Linked DNA regions of Homo sapiens: region 2 is linked to region 1. Evidence: fine-mapped expression QTL. A gene starts in region 1. The other region holds a variant in brackets. All regions are shown on one strand. Distances are between the middles of the regions.

Region 1 (15,643 bases):
AGATGCAGGATGACCTCCAGCTCAGGAGGTGTCCATGGTCTGGCCTTCTGTGGGGAGAAGGAAGGCCACGTGATCGGTGTGGCCCAGGTGGCAGGGCCTCAGCCTTCTAAGCCGAGCTCCCTCTTCCTCCCTCTGATGTTGGCACTGGCAGTGCAGGTGGGGCGGAGAGGGGCGCGGCTTGGGGACCTGAATGGGATGAATGGGCCGAGGGGGATGTCATCTCTTCCATCCTCCTTCATCCACTGCCTCTCCCTTCCCCTCCTCCCCCCTCCCCTCCGTCCATCTGCCTCCCATCCCAGCTAGGACCCATCACCTGGGTAGAAAAGGGGCCTCTGGAAAGGGGGCGGGGCCTTGACTCTTGGGTACCCTGCACTTGAAGAGGAACTCTGGGAAGGGGTTGTTCAGGGATTTGGCCCCTTCCCCACCTGGCTGTATAACCTTCCTGTGCTTTTCTTCTGCTAGCCGGTTGCCCCTCCCTCTCCTGAGATGTCAGGAAAGAGGGGGCCACCTGCGTCCTCCACAGGGGCCCCGAAGCCTGGGGTTCCCAGCCCCAGAGCTCGGAGGTGGAGGAGGTGCTACAGCTCTGGTGACCACTGGTTGTTTCCCAGTCTTCTCCACGCCAACCTTTCCCAGAACCACAGGCTTCCAGAATGTTGTAGGGAAACTGCAAAATCCGCGCCTCCACCAGCCTCTCCCAGCGCCAGGTCAATTTCACACACAGGGAAACTGAAGCCTGCCTCAGAGGGGCAGCGTTTTACCTCCTTAGTGGCAGTTTTGAGGTGAATCGGGGTCTCCCTAGGATTCCAGGTTGTGCACTTTCTCTAAATTGTGGAATGTGGCCAGGCGTGGTGGCTTGAGTCTGTAGTCCCAGCTACTCAGGAGCCACAGCAGGAGGATGGCTTGAGCCCAGGAGTTCAAGTGCAGTGGGGAAACATAGGGAGACCTCGTCTTAAAGCAATTTGTTTGGGGCCAGGCGTGGTTTCTCAGGCCTATAATCCCAGCACTCTGGGAGGCCAGGGCAGGAGTATCACTGGAGGTTGGGAGTTTGAGACCAGTCTGGCCAATGTTGTGAAACTGCATCTCTACTAAAAATACAAAAATTAGCAGGGCACGGTGGCAGGCGCTTGTAATTCCAGTTACTCAGAAGGCTGAGGCAGGAGAGTCACTTGAACCCAGGAGGCAGGCGCTACAGTGAGCCAGGATTGTGCCACTGTACTCCAGCCTGGCCAGACAGAGTGAGGCTCTGTCTCAAAAAAAAAAAAAAAAAAATTGGGCCGGGTGCAGTGGCTCATGCCTGTAATCCCAGCACTTTGGGAGGCCGAGGCAGGCAGATCACAAGGTCAGGAGATCAAGACCATCCTGGCTAACACGGGGAAACCCCGTCTCTACTAAAAAATACAACAAATTAGCCAGGCATAGTGGTGGGTGCCTGTAGTCCCAGCTACTCGGGAGGCTGAGGCAGGAGAGTGGTGTAAACCCGGGAGGTGGACCTGCAGTTAGCCGAGATCGCGCCACTGCAGTCCAGCCTGGGCGACAAGTGAGACACCCCCTCAAAAAAAAATTGATTGGAACATCCTCCAGGGTGCAAGACCCTCGGTTCCTCAGAGTTCTACAGGAAGGATAGCAGAGTGCAGTTGCCCAGAGGTGAAGTCCCATCTCTGCCATTTGTTGGCTGTGTGACCAGGCACAAATCATTAATTTCTCTGAGCCTGTATTTTACCATCTGTTGCTATTGAGTAATAGTAGTTGAATATTTTCTACTTTTATTTTTATTTTATTTTTATTTTTATTTTTTTTGAGACGGAGTCTGGCCCTGTCACCTAGGCTGGAGTGCAGTGGCGCGCTCTCGGCTCACTACACCTCTGCTTCATGGGTCCAAGCGATTCTCCTGCCTCAGCCTCCTGAGTAGCTGGGAGTACAGGTGCGCACCACCATACCCAGCTAATTTTTGTGTTTTTTTTTTAGTAGAGACAGGGATTCACCATGTTGGCCAGGCTGGTCTCAAAGTCTTGACCTCAGGTGATGCACCCACCTCGGCCTCCCAAAGCGCTGGGATTGCAGGCGTGAACCACTGCACCCGGCCGAACATTTTTATCTTTATTTTATGATTATTATTATTATTTTTTTAAGATGGAGCTTTGTTTTTGTTGCCCAAGCTGAAGTGCAATGGCGCGATCTTGGCTCACTGCAACCTCTGCCTCCTGGGATCAAGTGATTCTCCTGCCTTAGCCTCCCAAGTAGCTGGGATTATAAGCATGCAGCACCACGCTGGAGGATATTTTGTATTTTTAGTAGAGGTGCGGTTTCTCTATGTTGGTCAGGCTGGTCTGGAACTCCTCACCTCAGCTGATCCACCCACTGCAGCCTCCGACAATGCTGGCATTACAAGTGTGAGCCACCATGCCCGGCCTTATTTTTATTTTTATTTTTTTTGTGAGACAGAGTCTCACTCTGTTGTCCAGGCGGAAGTGCAGTGGCACCATCTTGGCTCACTGCAATCTCGGCCTCCCGGGTTCAAGCGATTCTCCTGCCTCAGCCTCCTGAGTAGCTGAGACCACAGGCGTGCAGCACCAGGCCTGGCTAATTTTGGTATTATCAGTAGAGATGTTGTTTCACAGTGTTGGCCAGGCTGCTCTCGAACTCCTGACCTCAAGTCATCCACCCGCCTCAGCCTCCCAAAGTGCTGGGATTACAGGTGTGAGCCATAGTGCCTGACCTGTAGTTGTTGAATATTTATTATTAATCTACAAGTTGGGTGTGATGCAAGTCCTATATATGGAGTCCCCCAAACTTCTAGAGCAAGGGCTTCCCCATAATCCTGGCAGGCAGGCCTCCCCTGGGGTTTCCAACTTCTGACCCCACTGAAGTGTTTATCCTCTTCTCTAATCCCAGCCTCCTTTTCCCTGTCTCCATGTGCTCTGAGAGATGCTCTGAGAGATGCTCCCACTCCCCCAGGCTCCCTCCGCATCCCCCTCATTTTCCTCCTCCCCAGTGTGTCAATGGAGTCCTAACCCCATCCTCGACATTGTCGCCTTTTCCTCCTCCAGAGTGGGACCTTCTTTTCCCCCGAGTGGTCCTGTCTAGGGGTGCCGCTGCCGGGCCCCCTCTGGTCTTCCTGCTGGAGACTGGAGCCTTTCGGGAGTCAGCAGGCGCCCGGGCCAACCGCAGCCAGCGAGGGGTGAGCGATACTTCACCGGCGAGTCATCAGGGTGAGCTGGCCGTGTGCGATGCAGTCAGTGTCTGGGTGACAGACCCCTGGACTGCTGTGGACTTGGGTGTGCTCGAGGTGGAGGTGTTGGGCGAGGTGCCTGCAGCTGTCGGCAGTTCCCTCCGCCAGCACTTCTTTGTTGCCCACTTCGAGGCCGATAAATCTGAGGAAGGTGGCCCGGGGGTAGGTGGAGGGGGCTGCCGCCGGGGTGTGGACCGGGGGGCACTGGGTGTCTGAGTGCAAGGCCAAGCAGTCCTATGTGCGGGCATTGACCGCTGATGCCCAGGGCCGTGTGGACTGGCGATGGATTCAAACTGGCACAGCCTGTGTCTGCACACTCCTCAGCCGGACTGGCCGGGCCTGAGACTTATACCCAGGAACTGGTCAGGCAGAAAAAGAACAGAGCTGGATGCTGAGAGACCTCAGGGTTGGCCCAGCTGCTCTACGGACGGACCCCAGTTGGGGAACTCATCAAATCATCACAAAATCACAACTCTCTGAATTTGAGCTCAATCTCTGCAGGATGGGTGCCACCACATGTGGTTTTGAAGGTTGAATAGGAGCTCTCCCAGGGGAACTTGAGGGTAATCATGATGATGATGATGATGATGATAATAATAATAGCCACTATTTACTGAGTGTTTACTCTTTCGTAGCCCTAATACATAACTCCTCGGATCAACTCTCATGGATTTGATCATTGGTGACCTTTGGTGTTAAGTTGCTGACTGCTCAGTCACAGAGGACACCACCTTGCTCATCCTGGGGAGTGGGAGGGCACATTTCACGATGTGCATGGGGGAGGAGGGAAACTGGAACATGCAAGCAGATGGCCAGGGGACCTTGAGGACATGGTCTACAGAAGGCCTTTAAGTATCTGGGAGCTGGGGTTCAAATGAGAAATCTTACTTGGTGAGAGCAGGCAGGGGTTGGCTTAGAATATTCTGTTTTGAGATAAAGAGCTACCGATCACACGGGGAGTATAAGCAAGGTTCAATGAGAAGTGATCAGGATGCTGGAGAGTTCAGCCCTGGGCGGGGAGCTCAAGTCAGGTTTCTAGCCCTCTTCCCTGTGCCAACCTATACCCTACATTGGGAAAGAAACAGACCTTAAAATTGTCCAGCTTGATGGCATCGCGGGGAAGGGACTAAGTCCAGATAATGTCCTCCGAGGCTTCGGCCCCATGGGCAGGACACACCTCCTGCGGGCCTATTCAATAATCAGTTAAATCACCTGAAGCACACGCATTTCCGGGGACAGCTCCGGGCATCCTGGCTTGAGGGTAGGGTGGGCGGAGGTCCCTAAGGGAGAGGTGGGGCTCGGGCTGAATCCCTCGTTGGCGGCACCAGGGTCAAGTGGCTTCCCTGGCAGCACAGTCACGGGGAGGCCCTCTCTCATTGGGCAGAAACTAAGTCCGAAGCCGCGCCCCTCCTGGGAGGTTGGACTGTGGTGCAGGAAAGCCTCAAGTAGAGGAGGGTTGAGGCTTCAGTCCAGCACCTTTCTCGGGTCACGGCCTCCTCCTGGCTCCCAGGACCCCACCATAGGCAGAGGCAGGCCTTCCTACACCCTACTCCCTGTGCCTCCAGCCTCGACTAGTCCCTAGCACTCGACGACTGAGTCTCTGAGGTCACTTCACCGTGGTCTCCGCCTCACCCTTGGCGCTGGACCAGTGAGAGGAGAGGGCTGGGGCGCTCCGCTGAGCCACTCCTGCGCCCCCCTGGCCTTGTCTACCTCTTGCCCCCCGAGGGGTTAGTGTCGAGCTCACCCCAGCATCCTATCACCTCCTGGTGGCCTTGCCGCCCCCACAACCCCGAGGTATAAAGCCAGGTACACGAGGCAGGGGACGCACCAAGGATGGAGATGTTCCAGGTAAGACTGCAGGGCCCCTGGGCACCTTCCACCTCCTTCCAGGCAATCACTGGCATGAGAAGGGGTCAGACCAGTGTGAGCTGTGGAAGGAGGCCTCTTTCTGGAGGAGCGTGACCCCCAGTAAGCTTCAGGTGGGGCATTTCCTGAAGGTGCGGATCTGAAATGTTGGGGTATCTCAGGTCCTCTGGGCTGTGGGGTGGGCTCTGAAAGGCAGGTGTCCGGGTGGTGGGTCCTGAATAGGAGATGCCGGGAAGGGTCTCTGGGTCTTTGTGGGTGGTGTACCACGCGGGATGGGAAGGCCAGGACTCGGGGCTGCGGTCTCAGACCCGGGTGAAGCAGTGTCCTTGTCCCAGGGGCTGCTGCTGTTGCTGCTGCTGAGCATGGGCGGGACATGGGCATCCAAGGAGCCGCTTCGGCCACGGTGCCGCCCCATCAATGCCACCCTGGCTGTGGAGAAGGAGGGCTGCCCCGTGTGCATCACCGTCAACACCACCATCTGTGCCGGCTACTGCCCCACCATGGTGAGCTGCCCGGGGCCGGGGCAGGTGCTGCCACCTCAGGGCCAGACCCACAGAGGCAGCGGGGGAGGAAGGGTGGTCTGCCTCTCTGGTCAGGGGCTGCGGAATGGGGTGTGGGAGGGCAGGAACAGAGGGCTTCCTGGACCCCTGAGTCTGAGACCTGTGGGGGCAGCTGGGGAGCTCAGCTGAGGCGCTGGCCCCAGGCACATGCTCATTCCCCCACTCACACGGCTTCCAGACCCGCGTGCTGCAGGGGGTCCTGCCGGCCCTGCCTCAGGTGGTGTGCAACTACCGCGATGTGCGCTTCGAGTCCATCCGGCTCCCTGGCTGCCCGCGCGGCGTGAACCCCGTGGTCTCCTACGCCGTGGCTCTCAGCTGTCAATGTGCACTCTGCCGCCGCAGCACCACTGACTGCGGGGGTCCCAAGGACCACCCCTTGACCTGTGATGACCCCCGCTTCCAGGACTCCTCTTCCTCAAAGGCCCCTCCCCCCAGCCTTCCAAGCCCATCCCGACTCCCGGGGCCCTCGGACACCCCGATCCTCCCACAATAAAGGCTTCTCAATCCGCACTCTGGAGGTGTCTTTCTGTGGGCTCAGGGCAACCACACACACACAGGATGGGTCCAGCTTCCAAACCATTTTATACAGAGTCACAGTATGAGAACTCTGGTAGAAAACAGTGTGGGGTCGGGGGATGACATCGCAACTTTACTCTACATTGGGAAAGAAACAGACCTTAAAATTTTCCAGCTTGATGGCCAGGTGCGATGGCTGATGCCTGTAATCCCAGCACTTTGAGAGGCCAAGACAGGCGAATCACCTGAGGTTAGGAGTTCAAGACCAGCCTGGTTAACATGGTGAAACCCCGTCTCTACTAAAATTACATAAAGAAATTAGCTGGGCGTGTAGGCGGGTGCCTGTAATCCCAGCTACTCTGGAGGGTGAGGCAGGAGAATCGCTTGAACCCGGGAGGCGGAGGTTGCAGTGAGCGGAGACTGTGCCATTGCACTCCAGCCTGGGCAAAAAGAGGGAAAGTCCGTCTCAAAAAAAAAAAAAAATTGTCCAGTTTGAGTGGGACATGAGGTTCTGACTAACTCGCCGTCCCCCTGGCTAGGATCAGGGGGTTATTCGTCATTGAGAGCCCTTGAGTAGGGTCAGCAAAATCCAACAGAAGGGCCCCAGAAGCATGATTCAGGGAGGAACAGTAAGTGGGATTGTGGGCCTGGCTGCAGAAGGCAGCCTCAGGTTTCCTTGTCTGAAGAATGGGCTCGTGGGATGAGATAATGAGGGTTGAGGAGGCAGAGGCCTAGACCAAAAGCTATTTTTTTTTTTTTTTTTGAGATGGAGTCTTGCTCTGTCCCCTAGGCTGGAGTGCAGTGGCATGATCTCAGCTCACTGCCACCTTCACCTCCTGAGTTCAAGTGATTCTCCTGCCTTAGTTGGGATTACAGGTGTGCGCCACCATGCCTGGCTACTTTTTATATTTTTCGATAGAGACAGGGTTTTGCCATGTTGGCCAGGCTGGTTTCAAACTCCTAACCTCAAGTTATCTGCCCGCCTCTGCCTCTCAAAGTGCTGGGATTACAGGAGTGAGTCATCGTGCCCGGTGACCAAAAGCTCTATATGGTGAAGAAATGACAAGGGAAGCCAGGGACAGACCACAGGAGTTCACAGTAGCCCTTCACCTATGACCCCTATTACCCATCTCCCTACATGTGTTGCCAACACACAGACATACAGACACACACACACTCACTCTCTCTCTCTCTCTCTGGTCCACAGGACTTCACAATAGCCCTTCACCTATTACCCATCTCCCCACATGTGTTGCCAACACACAGACAGACACACACACACACACACACTCTGTCTCTCTCTCTCTCTCTCTCTTTCTCTCTGTCTGGGACAGACCACAGGACTTCACAATAGCCCTTTACCTATTACCCATCTCCCCACATGTGTTGCCAACACACAGACACAGACACACACACACACTCTCTCTCTCTCACTTTCTCTCCCCCTCTCTCTCTCTCAGGTCCAGCTTTGAGCAAAGGACATAGGCACCCCCTCCACCAATCTGTACAGACCAGGCCCCTCGGCAGGGAGGGGTGTGGCTGCCTCCGTTTCTACATCTCCTTGTTACCATCTCTGATTTTGCTCTTTTTTGCCGCCTTTCTCTCTGTCTCTAACTTCCGGTGGCTCTAGCCTCTGGGTGAGTACTAATAGCTCCGTTTCCAGCGTGGTCTGTGTCTTCCTCCCTGTCTCTCTCCTCTCTTGTATTTCTTTCTCACTCATCAAAGCCCATGTTTTTCGCTATGGTCCGGTGCACTTCTCTGTGGGTGCCTCCCTGTTTCCACACCCCGCCTACCCAGGTGGAACTTTTCAAGCCAATCAAAGGCAGGCAGGACAGCCAATGCTAGTGCTGATTACTTCAGCACGTGCATGCAGGGAGGGTCGGGGAGCCCCGGGGATGTCTGGAAATCGTTACCCTGAGGTGGGCAGGCCTGGTAGAGGGAGGAAGCAGCCAGGAGCATCTGGGCCCTGGAAGAAAGGGGGGTGTTTCTCATGGATGTCCTGAGTTGCTAGGTGCAGCGCAGGGGTCTCTGTCTCTCTGTCTGGATCTCTGACACCTCCAGGTCCCTGTCCCTCTTTTTGGGTTTCTCTCTCCCCCACCCCCTGGGTCTCTGAAATACTGAACTTCTCCTTCCCTTTCCACCCTCCTATCTTTGAGTCTCCATTCCCCCTCCTTGTGTTTCTTTGTACCCCTCTTGGGGTCCCTGTCTCTGGGTCTCTTTCTCATTCCATCCATCCAGGTGCCTGCAGGCCCTTGATTGACTAGGTTCTGGGTGGGCGGGTTCTGTCACCTGGGGCAACAACCACAATAAGCCAGCTCCTGCTTGGCTACGGAGTGGGGGTGGAACCATGGCCAGTGGCACCCTGGCTCCGGGCTGTCGTATCTCTGCAACCGAGGTACCTGGATCCAGGCCCAACTGCCATCTCACCAGCAGCTACTTTTCCCACCGCATTATCCCACCCATACCCTTCACCCCGCCCACGGTGCAGGTGAGCGGACCCTACGCTGCAGCCCTGCCGGGCCTGGAGACCCAGAAAGATAGGGGCTAAATAAAGCGGATTGGGAGCTTGGACTCCTCTCTGAAGGAGGAGGGTCCTGGAGTTCTGGGTCTGAGAGAGGAGGCACCAGGGAAGCTGAATGCCAGGGACTGCAGAGGAAAGGGCTGGGGGCCGACTGGAAGAGGTCAGAGTTTGGGGTGGGGGGTGATAGGGACTCCTGAGTCTTTCTAGCTGATGTGCGGCGCCTTCTCTCCAGTCCACGGTCGCGGACCCTCTACCCCAAGTTGCAAAGCAGGATTCTCACAACTGGGCTTTCGACGAGGTCCTCAGCAGATGGGAGACAACCTCTGGCTCGGCCTACGTGCCCAAGACCCATGGCGGGCCCTGCGCCCAGCCCAGAGCCCCAGAGCCTGCAGACCCCACGCGGACTGTGGGGATCAAGGATTTAGGAGAAAAGGTAAAGTTTGGGGAGTGCCGGAGTCCGCAGGGGACAGGGCGGGGGACTGCATTTGAGTCCCCTGCTCCTTCACGTGAGTCTCTGGGTCGCCTTTCCGCAGCTCAGACACCGCGGCTGGCGCCTCCCACTGACCACAAAGTACCAGAGCAGCGAGACGAGGGCGCAGTACACTGGCTCTCCCAGCGGGGACCCGCGCGCCCCGGAATACTTCGGGCCCCAGCCCCCACAACTCGCAGACCACCACCGCGGGGGTCCTTCCCAGGTGTCTGGGTGGAAGCCGGCGCCGGCGAGACGGGGCGGAGCTCCGGGAGCCTGGGGCGGGGCCAGAAGGAATCACGGCTTTGGGGCGTGGCTAAAGGGTCTGGGGCGGGATCGCGAGGTTAGAGGAGCCGGGGGAGGGGCTGGGCATTAGGCCAGGCCAGAAGGACCAGGGACTACAAACTCACCTTCAGGGCTCCTAAGCTGCTGCGGAGCTAGACGGCGGGCTGTGGGTGGGGAGGAGACTAGAATATTCTGAGACGGGGTCAGGTGGGAGTTGGGAGAGGTAACTTGGAGTTGCTGCCCAAGATGCAGCTCAGCTCCAGTGGCCACACCAAGACGGTTTAAGACAGAGCGGAACCAGGGAGGTTGTTTTTGGTGGCTGGGGGCTTGGGTTTGAGTTCCTTGAACAGCAGAAGGTGCTTGGATTTAGGGAGGTGAGGCTGGGAAGGGTTCGGGTATGAGAAAGGAAGCTGAAGTTCCCTGGCGTGGGTGGCAGGAAGGGCTCTAACCCTGGGGCGGGGTGTGAGGGCCGTGGCCGTCATGGCTGTCGAGGCCGAAGGAGAGGGATTCTGAACTCGGGACCCAGGGCTTGGGATGGGGTATGAAATCTATGTCTTGGGTATGCCTCCTCCCCCAATCTTGCTCAGGCTCTAATTGCCTGGACGAAGAACCCCGAGCTGTCTGGCCGGCCTTTCACAGTATCCGACCGGGGCGTCCTGGACCGCCGCCAGCTCTATCTGACCACCTCGGCGCGGGACTTTCGGTTCTATCCCAAGTAAGCCGGGCTCTCGCTCGGCACCGCCTCCTGCACAGCCCCCGCCGTGGCCGGTGCACGCCGAGCCCCTGGGCTGGCTCCCATTCCCTGAGCCGGTGGTCTCAGCCTCGACTTCTGTAGCAGCAAGAACCAAAGTTCAGGCCTCAGCCCCTCCCTTTTTTTTTTAAGCACCCAGGAGTCCTTAGTGTCACCTCTCAGGAACCGCGGTAGGGACAGGAAGCCTGCACAGCGGCTCGAGGGGATTCCGGATCTGAGGGCAGGGCCTCCTTCGGTACTTGAGCCCCCAGATACTCCTTCCCAAGGAAGCGAAAGTCCCCTTTTACTTCCCTAGGATGCGAAAGCTCAGTTTCCAGGACGTTAAGTACCTCGAGGACCCAGGAACGCAGGCAACGCGTGCCGGGTCGCGTCCTTCCTAAGGGGTGCTCGCCTGGAAATGCAGGAGTTTGAATGTGCAGACTCCTTAGATCCCGAGGTCTGAAACTCGTCCCCAAGGATCCAGCTGTATCCTCACCATCCCGCCCTGCTCCCACAGGACGGAGCTGTCCGGATACCCCCGCAAGGACTCCCTGACCTACTGGAGCTTCGAAGAGACGCCCCAGGTCTGGAGCCACGGCCCGCAGCGGCCGCCCTGTCCGCGCTCCTCCCGGCCGCCCCGACCACCGCGGGTCCGCGTGCCGCGCGTCAGCCCGGTGACCTCGGCCATGCCGCACCGGGGAGCCCTGTCTCTGGCTCAGGAGTCCTACAGCCCCCTGCTGCACCCGCTCCGGCGGCTCGACCGCTTCTGCCCGCTGGAGGCGCCCTGGGGCGGCCCGCACTGGAAGCCCCTGCGGGGCATCTACAGCGTGCCGAAAGCCTACAGTACCGAGAACTCCAGCTATGGCAGCTTGAAGCCGGCGCTGGTGTGAGCCGTCAGGGCCAGCCCCACCCCAGACCCGCCCCCAGGGCCGCGCTGCCGAGCGGAGCTCGGGACCTCCGCTCACTAGGAAGGGTTCCGGACCCAGCCTGAGTCGCACTCATTACGTCTATTGGCAACGTGGGGGCGGGACTAGCCCAGACACCCACTCAGCTGCGGCATCACGGAGAGGGGACTAAGTCCAGATAATGTCCTTGCAGGCTGTGGCCCCGGGGGCAAGACACGCACCCTGCGGGCGTATTAAATAATGAGTTAAATCACCTGAACCACACCCACTTCCGGGGACGCTCCGGGCATCCTGGCTTGAGGGTAGGGTGGGCGGAGGTCCCTAAGGGAGAGGTGGGGCTCGGGCTTAATCCCTCCTTGGGGGCATCTGGGTCAAGTGGCTTCCCTGGCAGCACAGTCACGGGGAGACCCTCTCTCACTGGGCAGAAGCTAAGTCCGAAGCAGCGCCCCTCCTGTTAGGTTGGACTGTGGTGCAGGAAAGCCTCAAGTGGAGGGTTGAGGCTTCAGTCCAGCACCTTTCTCGGGTCATGGCCTCCTCCTGGCTCCCAAGACCCCACAATTGGCAGAGGCAGGCCTTCCTACACCCTACTCCCTGTGCCTCCAGGCTCGACTAGTCCCTAGCACTCGACAACTGGGTCTCTGAGGTCACTTCACCGTGGTCTCTGCCTCACCTCTGGCGCTAGACCACTGAGGGGAGAGGGCTGGGGCGCTCTGCTGAGCCACTCCTGCGCCTCCCTGGCCATGTGCACCTCTCGCCCCCGGGGGGATTAGTGTCCAGGTTACCCCAGCATCCTATCACCTCCTGGTGGCCTTGCCGCCCCCACAACCCCGAGGTATATAGCCAGATACACGAGGCAGGGGATGCACCAAGGATGGAGATGCTCCAGGTAAGACTACAGGGCCCCTGGGCACCTTCCACCTCCTTCCAGGCCATCACTGGCATGAGAAGGGGCAGACCCGTGTGAGCTGTGGAAGGAGGCCTCTTTCTGGAGGGGCATGACCCCCAGTAAGCTTCAGGTGGGGCAGTTCCTGAGGGTGGGGATCTGAAATGTTGGGGCATCTCAGGTCCTCTGGGCTGTGGGGTGGGCTCTGAAAGGCAGGTGTCCGGGTGGTGGGTCCTGAATAGGAGATGCCGGGAAGGGTCTCTGGGTCTTTGTGGGTGGTGTACCACGCGGGATGGGAAGGCCAGGACTCGGGGCTGCGGTCTCAGACCTGGGTGAAGCAGTGTCCTTGTCCCAGGGGCTGCTGCTGTTGCTGCTGCTGAGCATGGGCGGGGCATGGGCATCCAGGGAGCCGCTTCGGCCATGGTGCCACCCCATCAATGCCATCCTGGCTGTCGAGAAGGAGGGCTGCCCAGTGTGCATCACCGTCAACACCACCATCTGTGCCGGCTACTGCCCCACCATGGTGAGCTGCCTGGGGCCAGGGGCAGATGCTGCCACCTCAGGGCCAGACCCACAGAGGCAGCGGGGGAGGAAGGGTGGTCTGCCTCTCTGGCCTGCGGTTGGGGAATGGGGTGTGGGAAGGCAGGAACAGAGGGCTTCCTGGGCTCCTGAGTCCAGGACCTGTGGGGTCAGCTTGGGAGCTCAGCTGAGGCGCTGGCCTCAGGCACATGCTCATTCCCCCACTCACACGGCCTCCAGATGCGCGTGCTGCAGGCGGTCCTGCCGCCCCTGCCTCAGGTGGTGTGCACCTACCGTGATGTGCGCTTCGAGTCCATCCGGCTCCCTGGCTGCCCGCGTGGTGTGGACCCCGTGGTCTCCTTCCCTGTGGCTCTCAGCTGTCGCTGTGGACCCTGCCGCCGCAGCACCTCTGACTGTGGGGGTCCCAAAGACCACCCCTTGACCTGTGACCACCCCCAACTCTCAGGCCTCCTCTTCCTCTAAAGACCCTCCCCGCAGCCTTCCAAGTCCATCCCGACTCCTGGAGCCCTGACACCCCGATCCTCCCACAATAAAGGCTTCTCAATCCGCACTCTGGAGGTGTCTTTCTGTGGGCTCAGGGCAACCACACATACACAGGGTGGGTGCAGCTTCCCAACCATTTTATACAGAGTCACAGTGTCAGAACTCTGGTGGAAAACAGGGTGGGGTCGGGGGATGACATCCAACTCAGGAGGTGTCCATGGTCTCGCCTTCTGTGGGGAGAAGGAAGGCCACATGGTCAGTGTCGCCCAGGTGGCAGGGCCTGAGCCTTCTACGCCGAGCTCCCTCTTCCTCCCTCTGAGGTTGGCTCTGGCAGTGCAGGTGCGGGGTGGGGATTCTTACTGAGTTCGTTGAAGAGGAAGGCGTCCTGGTACTCCTTCATGTACTGCGTGGAGCGGGACTCGTCCAGGAAGAGTGAGTAGACCCGCTTGATGTCATCCACCTGCACTTCTGTACCCTGGAGGGGGAGGGCGAGTCCTCAGTTGGGCCCCTCTCCGTGAGGCTCAAGGCACAGACCCCAGCGTATGCCACCTCCATGCTCTAGGCAGCAGAGTGTGGCATGTGAGGGGAGGGCATTCTGGGCCAGATTGCCTGGGTTCAAATCCTGCCTGGCCATCTCCTTGTTGTGGGCCCAGCCTCTTCATTCCTCAGTTTCTTTATCTGTAAGGTGGACCTAACAGCATCTACTTAAGTCAAGAGAGATTTACTGATACCTACTATAGGCCAGGCTGGATGATACAGAAGCCAACCTGAGGGATGAAAATTCCCTGCGTCTGAAAACGTACATTCTAGGATGAAATCGGAACCCTGGAAGCCCCTGAAGTACTGTGTCACTCACTGCCGCCATCTGGCCCTGCTGGCTAATTCGGCCGGCTGACCTTGCGTTTCCGGCACACCAAGCTGGCAGCTGTGATGAGCTGGATGGCGTAGCGCAGTGACGTCTCCAGCCCGATGCGGGTCAGCACCGTGTAGGCGTCCTCACTCATCTCCACATCTTCTTCCTCGCACCTGCAAGCAGTGGGGGACAGGGGTGGCTCAGCCGGGGCCCAGCCTCTGACTGCAGCAGAAGTGGCCACAGCAACCCTCTGGCCCTTCCCCACTGGGAATATGTGGCGCCTGCATCTTAGAACCATAGAATGCTGAGGCTAGAAGAGCCACGGAGACAGGGGCTGGGCTGGACCTAAAACCGAGGCCTCCTGACCACCCCCAGGGCGCTGGCCCCAACACCAGTCACGGGTACCTCGCCTCCCTTTCCCACCGTGGCTCCTGCTCCCGGATCGGAGGCCACCGTCTGGGTGCCCGCTCAGCCCTCTCTCCTGTAGGCCCAGCCACCATGCCACTCCGCTGGACCTCAGTGTCAGCATTTGTCAAACAGGGTAGACCCCAGCCCTGCGTCTCAGGCGCACGGCCTGGTCCTGCCCGCACCGGATGCGGAGGATCTGCTTCGTGTCTTTCTCGCTGTAGGGGGTGGTGGAGACGATAAGCAGCCGGTCCAGCAGGTCTATGGGGATGCCGTGAGGGCTCTGGTAGCTGGTGCCCCGGATTCTGAGGAAGAGGCAGAAAGAGGGGGCTGTCAGGGGCATGTTCCCTCTTCATTCCCTTTGCTGGGAACACTCTCACCTCCCATCGCCACCCACTCACTGGGCCCAACACCACTTAACCTTTAGCTCGCGTCTCCTGTCACATGATGACATCACCCCTGATGACGCAGCCTTCCACAGCTGCGTCAGTCCCCCAAGGGCACCTTTCCGCGGAGCTGGGCTGCTTTAAGCTAGATCTCTGCCTCCAGGATTACTGGATCAAGGTCCCACTCCCGTGCTCGACACAAAGCTTCACAAAGGAGGGGACTGCACCTGTCTTGTTCCCTGCTGCAGCGGGGCCAGCCCAGGGCTGGTGCCAGGGGATACAGTCAGTTCCCCTTATTCACAGTAGTGAGGTTCTAGAAAGTCATCGTGAACACTCCAATTAGCTGATCCTGAGCCACTGCTCCTACTGGAATACAGGGTTAGGCTCTCTCGAGCCTCGGCTTACAGTATTTTCATCAATCCATATATATATAATCTGGGTCTATGCGTATTTTCATTTGTGTGTTTCTGGTCTTTTTGGTTTGTTTTTTGAGACGGAGTCTCGCTCTGTTGCGAGGCTGGAGTGCAGTGGCGCGATCTCGGCTCACTGCAACCTCCGCCTCCCGGGTTCAACCGATCCTCCTGCCTCAGCCTCCCAAGTAGCTGGGTCTACAGGCGCACGCCATCACGCCCAGCTAGTTTTTTCTATTTTTAATACAGACAGGGTTTCACCATGTTGGCCGGGACGGTCTCATTCTCTTGACCTCGTGATCCACCCACCTCGGCCTCCCAAAGTGCTGGGATTACAGGTGTGAGCTACCGCGCCTGGCCTCATGTATGTGTGTTTCTATTTCCATGTGTTTGTTATGTAACATCACTGTTTATTCTCTAACATGGAGCTCGTGTCAACAGCATTCTAACTTGGGCTCAGCGAAGCGTCTGTAACATGGCATTTTCTCCGTCAGGCTTCACAGCCTCCTTGCACTTAGGATACTAGACAGCACTTCAACACTGTGCACAGGGGACACTTTAAATGGCAATATCACCAACAAATGGCCCCAAAAAGTTTAAAA
Region 2 (8,000 bases), 38 kb after region 1:
CTGGTTTTGACCCCCTTCTAGGTTTTAAGAGGCTCAAGAAGCTTAGTTTCCAGGCTGGGCACGGTGGCTCATGCCTGTAATCCCAGCACTTTGGGAGGCCGATGGGGGAAGATCACGTGAGGCCAGGAGTTCAAGATGGCCAAACCTCGTCTTTACTAAACATACAAAAAAATTAGCTGGGTGTGGTGGTGGGCACCTGTAATCCCAAATCCCAGCTACTTGGGAGGCTGAGACAGGAGAATTGCTTGAACCTGGGAGGCGGGAATTGCAGTGAGCTGAGATTGCATCACGGCACTCCAGCCTGGGCCACAGAGTGAGACACTGTCTCAAAAAAAAAAAGAAAAAGAAAAAAAAAAAAAGAAGCTTAATTTCTCATGCCCTGGGACAAATAATTGAGGAACTGGCTGCTCCTATGGCATTCTGGGAGTTGTAGTCCCTTTGCCAATGTTGGGTGCAGACAGCGTACCCTTGAGACAAGGGGTCTTTGGAAACTATGTCCAGGACCTGGGAACATGAAAACTTCAGTCTGTCCAATCTAACCCTGCCAGGACTTAGATGGTTGGCCAAAAAATCCTCAGTTCCTGTCAACCCCTGAGGAGGCAGTCACTTGAGCCCAGGAGTTCAAGACCAGCCTGGGCTGCCTCAGGGATTTACAGGTCCCTGTCCGGTTGGGATTGCTGCAGTGGGCCGCTGCCCACTCTGTGCAGTAGTGGTGACAGATTGACCTCTCCCCGAGTCCTTGTCCCTACTGGGGATTGCCGATTCTTTTCCCAACACTCGTGGAGACAGTGGCCCTGTCCCTGTTGCCCACAGTTCCTGGCACAGAGTGAGGAGAAGCCACATGTGGTTGCTCACTTCCATGAGTGGTTGGCAGGCGTTGGACTCTGCCTGTGTCGTGCCCGGCGACTGCCTGTAGCAACCATCTTCACCACCCATGCCACGCTGCTGGGGCGCTACCTGTGTGCCGGTGCCGTGGACTTCTACAACAACCTGGAGAACGTGAGCTGGGACCGTGGCAGATGGGGGACTGCGAGTATGCCAGGAAAACCCAAAGCTCTGGGGGGCCCAAGGGGATGGCACCCCCTCTTCTCCCAGGATCCAGGAGTCCAAGTCCCCAGACCCCTCCTACCTCAGACCCAGGAATCCAGCCCCCAGCACCAATTTCTCTTGGGACCCCAGTGTCTGGACCTCCAGAGTCTTCTCCCCAATCCTTCTAACCGGACTGCTGTCCCCTCCCACCCAGTTCAACGTGGACAAGGAAGCAGGGGAGAGGCAGATCTACCACCGATACTGCATGGAAAGGGCGGCAGCCCACTGCGCTCACGTCTTCACTACTGTGTCCCAGATCACCGCCATCGAGGCACAGCACTTGCTCAAGAGGAAACCAGGTAGGGGCTGGGCTGAAGTCCCCAGACGTGAATGAGGTAGGCAGCTGTCTATGCCAAAGCCAGTTGCTCCTCAGCCCAAGAAGCCCACTGTAAGTTGAAATAGCATAAACCGAAAACGTATTTCGGCTGGGCATGGTGGCTCACACCTGTAATCTCAGCACTTTGAGAGGCCAAGGCAGGAGAACCACTTGAGCCCGGGAATTTGAGACCAGCCTGGGCAACATGGCGAATCCCTGTCTAAAATATTCGCCAGACATGGTGTGTGCCTGTATCCCTAGCTACTCAGGAGGCTGAGGTGGGAGGATTGCTCGAGCCTAGGAGGTCAAGGGTGCAGTGAGCTGTGATCGTGCCATTGCATGATTTGGGTGGCCTGGAGAGACCCTGTCACAGCCTGGGTGACACAGTGAGACCCTGTCTCAAAAAATAAAAAAATGCATTTAATACACCTAACCTACTGAACATCATAGCTTAGGCTAGTATACCTTAAATGTGCCCAGAACACTTTATGTTAGCCTACGACTGGGCAAAATCATCCAATACAAATCTGTTTTATTTTATTTTTATTTATTTATTTATTTTTGAGACGGAGTCTCGCTCTGTCGCCCAGGCTGGAGTGCAGTGGCGCTATCTTGGCTCACTGTAAGCTCCGCCTCCCAGGTTCATGCCATTCTCCTGCCTCAGCCTCCCAAGTAGCTGGGACTATACGCGCCTGCCACCACGCCTGGCTAATTTTAATACAAACCTATTTTATAATAAAGTGTTGAATAGGCTGGGCGCAGTGGCTCACACCTGTAATCCCAACACTTTGGGAGGCCAAGGCGGGCAGATCACGAGGTCAGGAGATCGAGACCAGCCTGGCCAACATGGCGAAACTCCATCTCTACTAAAAATACAAAAATTAGCCGGGCGTGGTGGTGGGTGCCTGTAATCCCAGCTACTCGGGAGGCTGAGGCAGGAGAATCACTTGAACCCAGGAGGCGGAGGTTGCAGTGGGCCGAGATCACACCACTGCACTCCAGCCTGGACAACAGAGCGAGACTCCATCTCAAAAAATTAAAAAAAAAAAGTGTTGAATATCTCATCAAAATCCAAAATTGGACTCATGTGGATGTATGTAACTTTCACACCATCATAAGGTTGAAAAATCATAACTTGGCTGGGCACGGTGGCTTACACCTGTAATCCCAGCACTTTGGAAGGCTGAGGTGGGCAGATCACCTGAGGTCATGTGCTCAAGACCAGCCTGGCCAACATTGTGAGACCCCCTCTCTGCCAAAAATACAAAAATTAGGTGGGCATGGTGGCAGGCGCCTGTAATCCCAGCCACCCAGCTACTCGGGAGGCTGAGGCAGGAGAATCTCTTGAACCCAGGAGGCAGAGGTTGTCGTGAGCCAAGATTGTGCCATTGCACTCCAGCCTGGGCAACAAGAGCGAAACTCTGTCTCGAAAAGAAAAATCATAACTTGGACCATCCTAAGTCCTAAGCTGGGGACCATCAGTTACCATTTTTTTACCTAAAGAATAGAGAACTACAGCTCCCAGAAGGCTGTGGGGGTGGTGACCTGTATTTGAGGCTCTCTGACTATATACTCTGGAGGCTAATGGGAGGTATAATTTCTTTCATATTAATTTCAGATATGATAAAATTCTGTAATTGGCTAATGTAGATTGGTCTTATGAAAGGGAATGGAAGATCAGTGGACTTTGCTTTTGAGAAAGGTTAGGTCAGAACTGG[G/CTGGG]CATTCTTCCCAGCCCTTAGTATCCGTTCTCAGTGAGTATAAGGTGAGAACTACAACTCCCAGAAGGCCTTTGACTGGTTAGCTCTATATGTTCCAGAACTTTGCCCTAGGCGCTGATGGGGGTTGTAGTTTTTCGTTGATATACTTTAATTTCTATGAGGAGAAGAAATGATTGGGTCCCTGTAAGAAGCTTGGAAGTAGAGGATATATCCTAGGAGAAGCAGGACTTTGGGGATGTTTAATCATTTCCATCTCAGGGTGGGCTAAGAGGAAACAAAAGAAGTACAACTTTCCCAGAATCACCAGTGTGGATCAGATCCCTGTTAGCCATTTGCAGTAGCTGAGGAGACTTATACTTGTGCTTGTGAACCTAAGCAAGTAATATTAGGCAAGAAGGCATCTTGGAGTCAGGGTAGGTGTGTCACCAAGGGAACTGGCCAGGCATGGTGGCTCACACCTGTAATCCCAGCACTTTAGGAGGCCAGGGCAGGAAGACTGCTTGAAGCCAGGAGTTTGAGATCAGCTTGGGTAACATGACAAGACCCCATCACTACAAAAGTAAAATAAATAAATTAGCCGGGTGTGGTAGTGCACGCCTGTAGTGCCAGCTACTCGGGAGGCTGAGGAGGGAGGATTGCTTGAGCCCAGGAGGTCAGGGATGCAATGAGCTGTGATTGTGCCACTGCTCTCCAGCCTGAGCGACAGAGAGAAACCCTGTCTCCAAAAACAAACAAACAAACAAAAAAGGTGGGAGGGGGGACCTCATAGGAACGCTCTTGAAACAAAAAAATTGCAAAAGGCAAAGGGTGTTTTCTTCATTTATTCATTCAACCACAACATTGATCTGAATGAACAAATAAAACATGGGACCCTCACCCCCAATCCCAGATATTGTGACCCCCAATGGGCTGAATGTGAAGAAGTTTTCTGCCATGCATGAGTTCCAGAACCTCCATGCTCAGAGCAAGGCTCGAATCCAGGAGTTTGTGCGGGGCCATTTTTATGGGTACGTGGGGCATATACCTAGGTCTTAAGAGAGGAGGGCGTTGGGAGCCTAACCATCTAGGTCTGGGGGAGGGGGCAGCTGGGGGCCCAGACTCCTGGGTCTGAGGGAGGGGGCACCTGGGTATTCGGCCTCCTTAATTCTTGAGCGCTGGAACAATGGGCTCAGGATTAAAGGAAATCTCCATCTAAAGAGAAGAACTACAACTCCCAGGAGGCCCCGTGATGCCTCTGTATTACCTAAGACATCCTCTGCCCCCCCACCCATAGCTTCTGGGATTTGTAGTTTTGAGGCCAGGGCTAGCGGGTGAGGGCTTTGGGCTTTACCGTGCCTTGTGGGTTCTTTAGGCATCTGGACTTCAACTTGGACAAGACCTTATACTTCTTTATCGCCGGCCGCTATGAGTTCTCCAACAAGGGTGCTGACGTCTTCCTGGAGGCATTGGCTCGGCTCAACTATCTGCTCAGAGTGAGGCCTGGGCTATGAGGGGACAGGGAGGGCAAGCAAAGCAGTTTATAACTAGGGAGAACAGCCAGGCACAGTGGCTCACACCTGTAATCCCAACACTTTTGGAGGCCAAGGCGGGAGGATCACTTGAGCCCAGGAGATGGAGACCAGCCTGGGCAACATGGTGAAACCCCATCTCTACAAAAAATACAAAAATTAGCCAGGCATGGTGGCTCACACGTGTAGTCCCAGCTACTCGGGAGGGTGAACGGGGAGGATCACGCGAGCCCGGGAGGTGGAGGTTGCAGTGAGCCAAGATCATATCACTGCACTCCAGCCTGGGCGACAGAAAAAGACGCTGTCTCAAAAACAAAACAAAACAAAACAAAACAAAAAATTACAGAACAGAAACCCAAGAAGCCAGGAAGATGGGGGTAGGAAAGCCCCTGAGTATGGTGGGGGGCCGTGAGGGGAGTATAGAGACCCAGAAAGAAGGTCAGAGTCCAGGTGGGGACTGTCCTATAATTCTCCTTGACAGGAATGGGTATGGCAGGATCCCAGTGGTCTTGACAGAAAGGCTGGCTGGTTCCAGGCTTCCCCCACATGATCCTGGCCTCCCCCTCCTTTCTTTCTGCGCAGGTGAACGGCAGCGAGCAGACAGTGGTTGCCTTCTTCATCATGCCAGCGCGGACCAACAATTTCAACGTGGAAACCCTCAAAGGCCAAGCTGTGCGCAAACAGCTTTGGTTAGCAGCCCTCGCTCCGGCCCCTGGCGCAGCCCACTCCCAGATGCATGCTTTGGGTCCTGTGTTTCTCCTAGAGTCTCAGTTTTTTGTTTTGTTTGTTTGTTTGTTTGTTTGTTTTTGAGACAGTCTCACTCTGTCGCCCAGGCTGGAGTGTAGTGGTGCGATCTTGGCTCACTGCAACCTCCACCTCCTGGGTTCAAGCAAGTCATCTGCCTCAGCCTCTCGAGTAGCTGGGACTACAGGTGCACACCACCATGCCTGGCTAATTTTTGTATTTTCAGTAGAGATGGGGTTTCACCACATTGGCCAGACTAGTCTCAAACTCCTGATCTCGTGATCTGCCCGCCTCAGCCTCCCAAAGTGCTGGAATTACAGGCATGAGCCACCGCACCCGGCCCTCTTTTTTTTTTTTATTTTGAGATGGAGTTTTGCTCTGTCGCCCAAGCTGGAGTGCAATGGCATGATCTCGGCTCACTGCAACCTCTGCCTCCTGGGTTCAAGCGATTTTCCTGCCTCAGCCTCTGAGTAGCTGGGACTACAGGGGTGTGCCACCACACCTGGCTAACTTTTTATTTTTATTAGAGACAGGTTTTCACTATATTGGCCAGGCTGGTCTTGAACTCCTGACCTCAGGTGTTCCGCCTGCCTCAGCCTCCCAAAGTGCTGGGATTCCAGGCGTGAGCCACCACACCTAGCCTTTTTTTGTATTTTTAGTAGAGATGGGGTTTCACCATGTTGGCCAGGCTGATCTTGAACACCTGACCTCAGGTGATCCAGCCGCCTTGGCATCCCAAAGTGCTGGGATTACAGGGGTGAGCCACTGCGCCTGGCTTAGTTTCTTTTTCTTTTCTCTGATTTTTTTTTTTTTTTGAAACAGAGTCTCACTGTTGCCCAGGCTGGAGTGCAGTGGCGTAATCTCAGCTCACTGTAACCTCCGCCTCCCAGCAAAGCTCAGTTTCTTCATCTGTAAAACCGTTCATTCATTAGCAGAGATACTCACTGAGCATCTACTATGTGCTAGCTAATTTTTATATTTTTAGCACCGATGGGATTTCACCACGTTGACCAGGCTGGTCTTGAACTCCTGACCTCAAGTGACCTGCCCTCCTCATGTATTCCAGGTCCTGGGAATACAGCTGTGAACCAGAAAGATAAGATCCCTTTCCTCATGGAGCTTGTATTCTAGAAAATCCTGTAGACGGAATTTACTTTTGGGCAAAAATAAAGCAGAACTGGAATATGAGACGGGGTTGTCAGGACAGGCCACACTGAGAAAGTGTTATTGGGCAGAGACGAGGAAAGGTGACGAGGGAGCAAGCCCTGTGGGTATCTGAGGAACAGCAAACTCGAAGGCCCCGAGGCATGATTGAGACGCGGTGGGGAGTCCCATGGGGCTGGAGTGACATGTCTCATAGAGAAGGGGTAGAAAGTGAGGCAAGATGGAGGGCACCTGTAGTGCCAGCTACAGGAGGCAGGAGGATCATTTTGGCCCTGGAGGTTGAGGCTGTAGTGAGGCATGATTGCGCCACTGCACTCCAGCCTAGGCAACAGAGTGAGACTCTGTCTCAAAAAAATAAAAAAGAAGTCGGGCGTGGTGGCTCACACCTGTAATCCCGGCACTTTGGGAGGCCGAGGCGGGTGGATCACCTGAGGTCGGGAGTTTGAGACCAGCTTGACCAACATGGTGAAACCCCGTCTTTCCTAAAAATAAAAAAAATCAGCAGGGCGTGGTGACACACATCTGTAGTCCTAGCTACTCGAGAGGCTAAGCAGGAGAATCGCTCGAACCCGGGAGGCAGAGATTGCAGTGAGCCAAGATCGCGCCAATGCACTCCAGCATGGGTGACAGTGAGACTCGGTCTCAAAAAAAAAAAAAAAAAAAAGAAAGAAAGAGGCTGGGCGCGGTGGCTCACACCTGTAATCCCAGCACTTTGGGAGGCTGAGGAGGGCAGATCACTTGAGGTCAGGAGTTCGAGATCAGCCTGGTCAACGTGGTGAAATCCCATCGGTACTAAAAATATAAAAATTAGCCAGATGTGGTGGCGCACGCTTGTAATTGCAGCTACTCAGGAGGCTGAGGCAGGAGAATTTCTTGAACCTAGAAAGTGGCCGAGATTGCGCCATCCTGGGCGACAGAGCAAGACTCTGTCTCAAAAAAAAAAAAAAAAAAAAAAAAAAAAAAAAAAAAAAAAAGAAAAGAAAAAAGAAAAAGAGACAAAGAAAGAAAAATAAATGAGGCCAGAGCTATGGGAGGATTTTAAGTGGAGGAGTGACCGTGGGGCTGTTGTGTGACACTGCTAGCTTTACTTGTGTGCCTAAGTGGTCCTTTCTCAGAATCTTACTTTCTTTTCGTATAAAATGGGGCTTAGCATTGCCATCTGCAGGACAAGTACAAGTCCTAATAATAGCTGACATTTCTGGAAGGCTTGCCATGTGTACTTTTTGGCATGACATCATTGGGTCCTCATCGCAAACCTCTGAGGTTGATTCTATTTTCATCCTCCTCTGAAAAATGAGTCACTGCAGTCAGAGAGGGAAGGCCACCTGTCCCTGACCACACAGCTGATGTCAGGCACGTGGGTCCTAAGCCTTCCAGGGCCTGCCCCCTGGGTCCCCATCCTCCAGCCTGGAGGCCCCAGGGCACGGCTTCCCTGCTCACACCTCAGTTTCCTTGCTATCCT

The links. PIP is the estimated chance that this variant, and not a neighbour inherited with it, causes the effect.
Region 2: its variant is fine-mapped to the expression of SAXO3 in whole blood (TOPMed, PIP above 0.99).

What each region holds. Positions count from the first base shown.
Region 1 is chr19:49,013,391-49,029,033 of GRCh38, reverse strand. SAXO3 (stabilizer of axonemal microtubules 3) reads left to right here and starts at 8,485. Exons shown (of 5, transcript NM_001396011.1): 1 at 8,485-8,659; 2 at 8,925-9,125; 3 at 9,226-9,387; 4 at 10,034-10,161; 5 at 10,694-11,066. The coding sequence starts at 8,519. The coding sequence ends at 11,066. It overlaps LHB (luteinizing hormone subunit beta), which reads left to right and starts at 11,943. Exons shown (of 3, transcript NM_000894.3): 1 at 11,943-11,967; 2 at 12,320-12,487; 3 at 12,724-13,054. The coding sequence starts at 11,953. The coding sequence ends at 12,966. It overlaps CGB3 (chorionic gonadotropin subunit beta 3), which reads left to right and starts at 4,701. Exons shown (of 3, transcript NM_000737.5): 1 at 4,701-5,077; 2 at 5,431-5,598; 3 at 5,834-6,165. The coding sequence starts at 5,063. The coding sequence ends at 6,148. LOC124904738 (a long non-coding RNA gene) reads right to left here and starts at 8,941. Exons shown (of 2, transcript XR_007067288.1): 1 at 8,360-8,941; 2 at 6,219-8,137. It also overlaps RUVBL2 and the pseudogene NTF6A. RefSeq lists enhancers at 7,759-7,908, 10,195-11,118, 10,928-11,222 and a silencer at 10,762-10,951.
Region 2 is chr19:48,978,849-48,986,848 of GRCh38, reverse strand. It overlaps GYS1 (glycogen synthase 1), which reads left to right. Exons shown (of 16, transcript NM_002103.5): 4 at 814-999; 5 at 1,244-1,388; 6 at 4,012-4,129; 7 at 4,474-4,594; 8 at 5,213-5,319. Among named protein-coding and RNA genes, the nearest start is that of GYS1, 10 kb to the left of the region's middle. RefSeq lists an enhancer at 7,648-7,887. The variant G/CTGGG (reference allele first, on the strand shown) is at 3,124.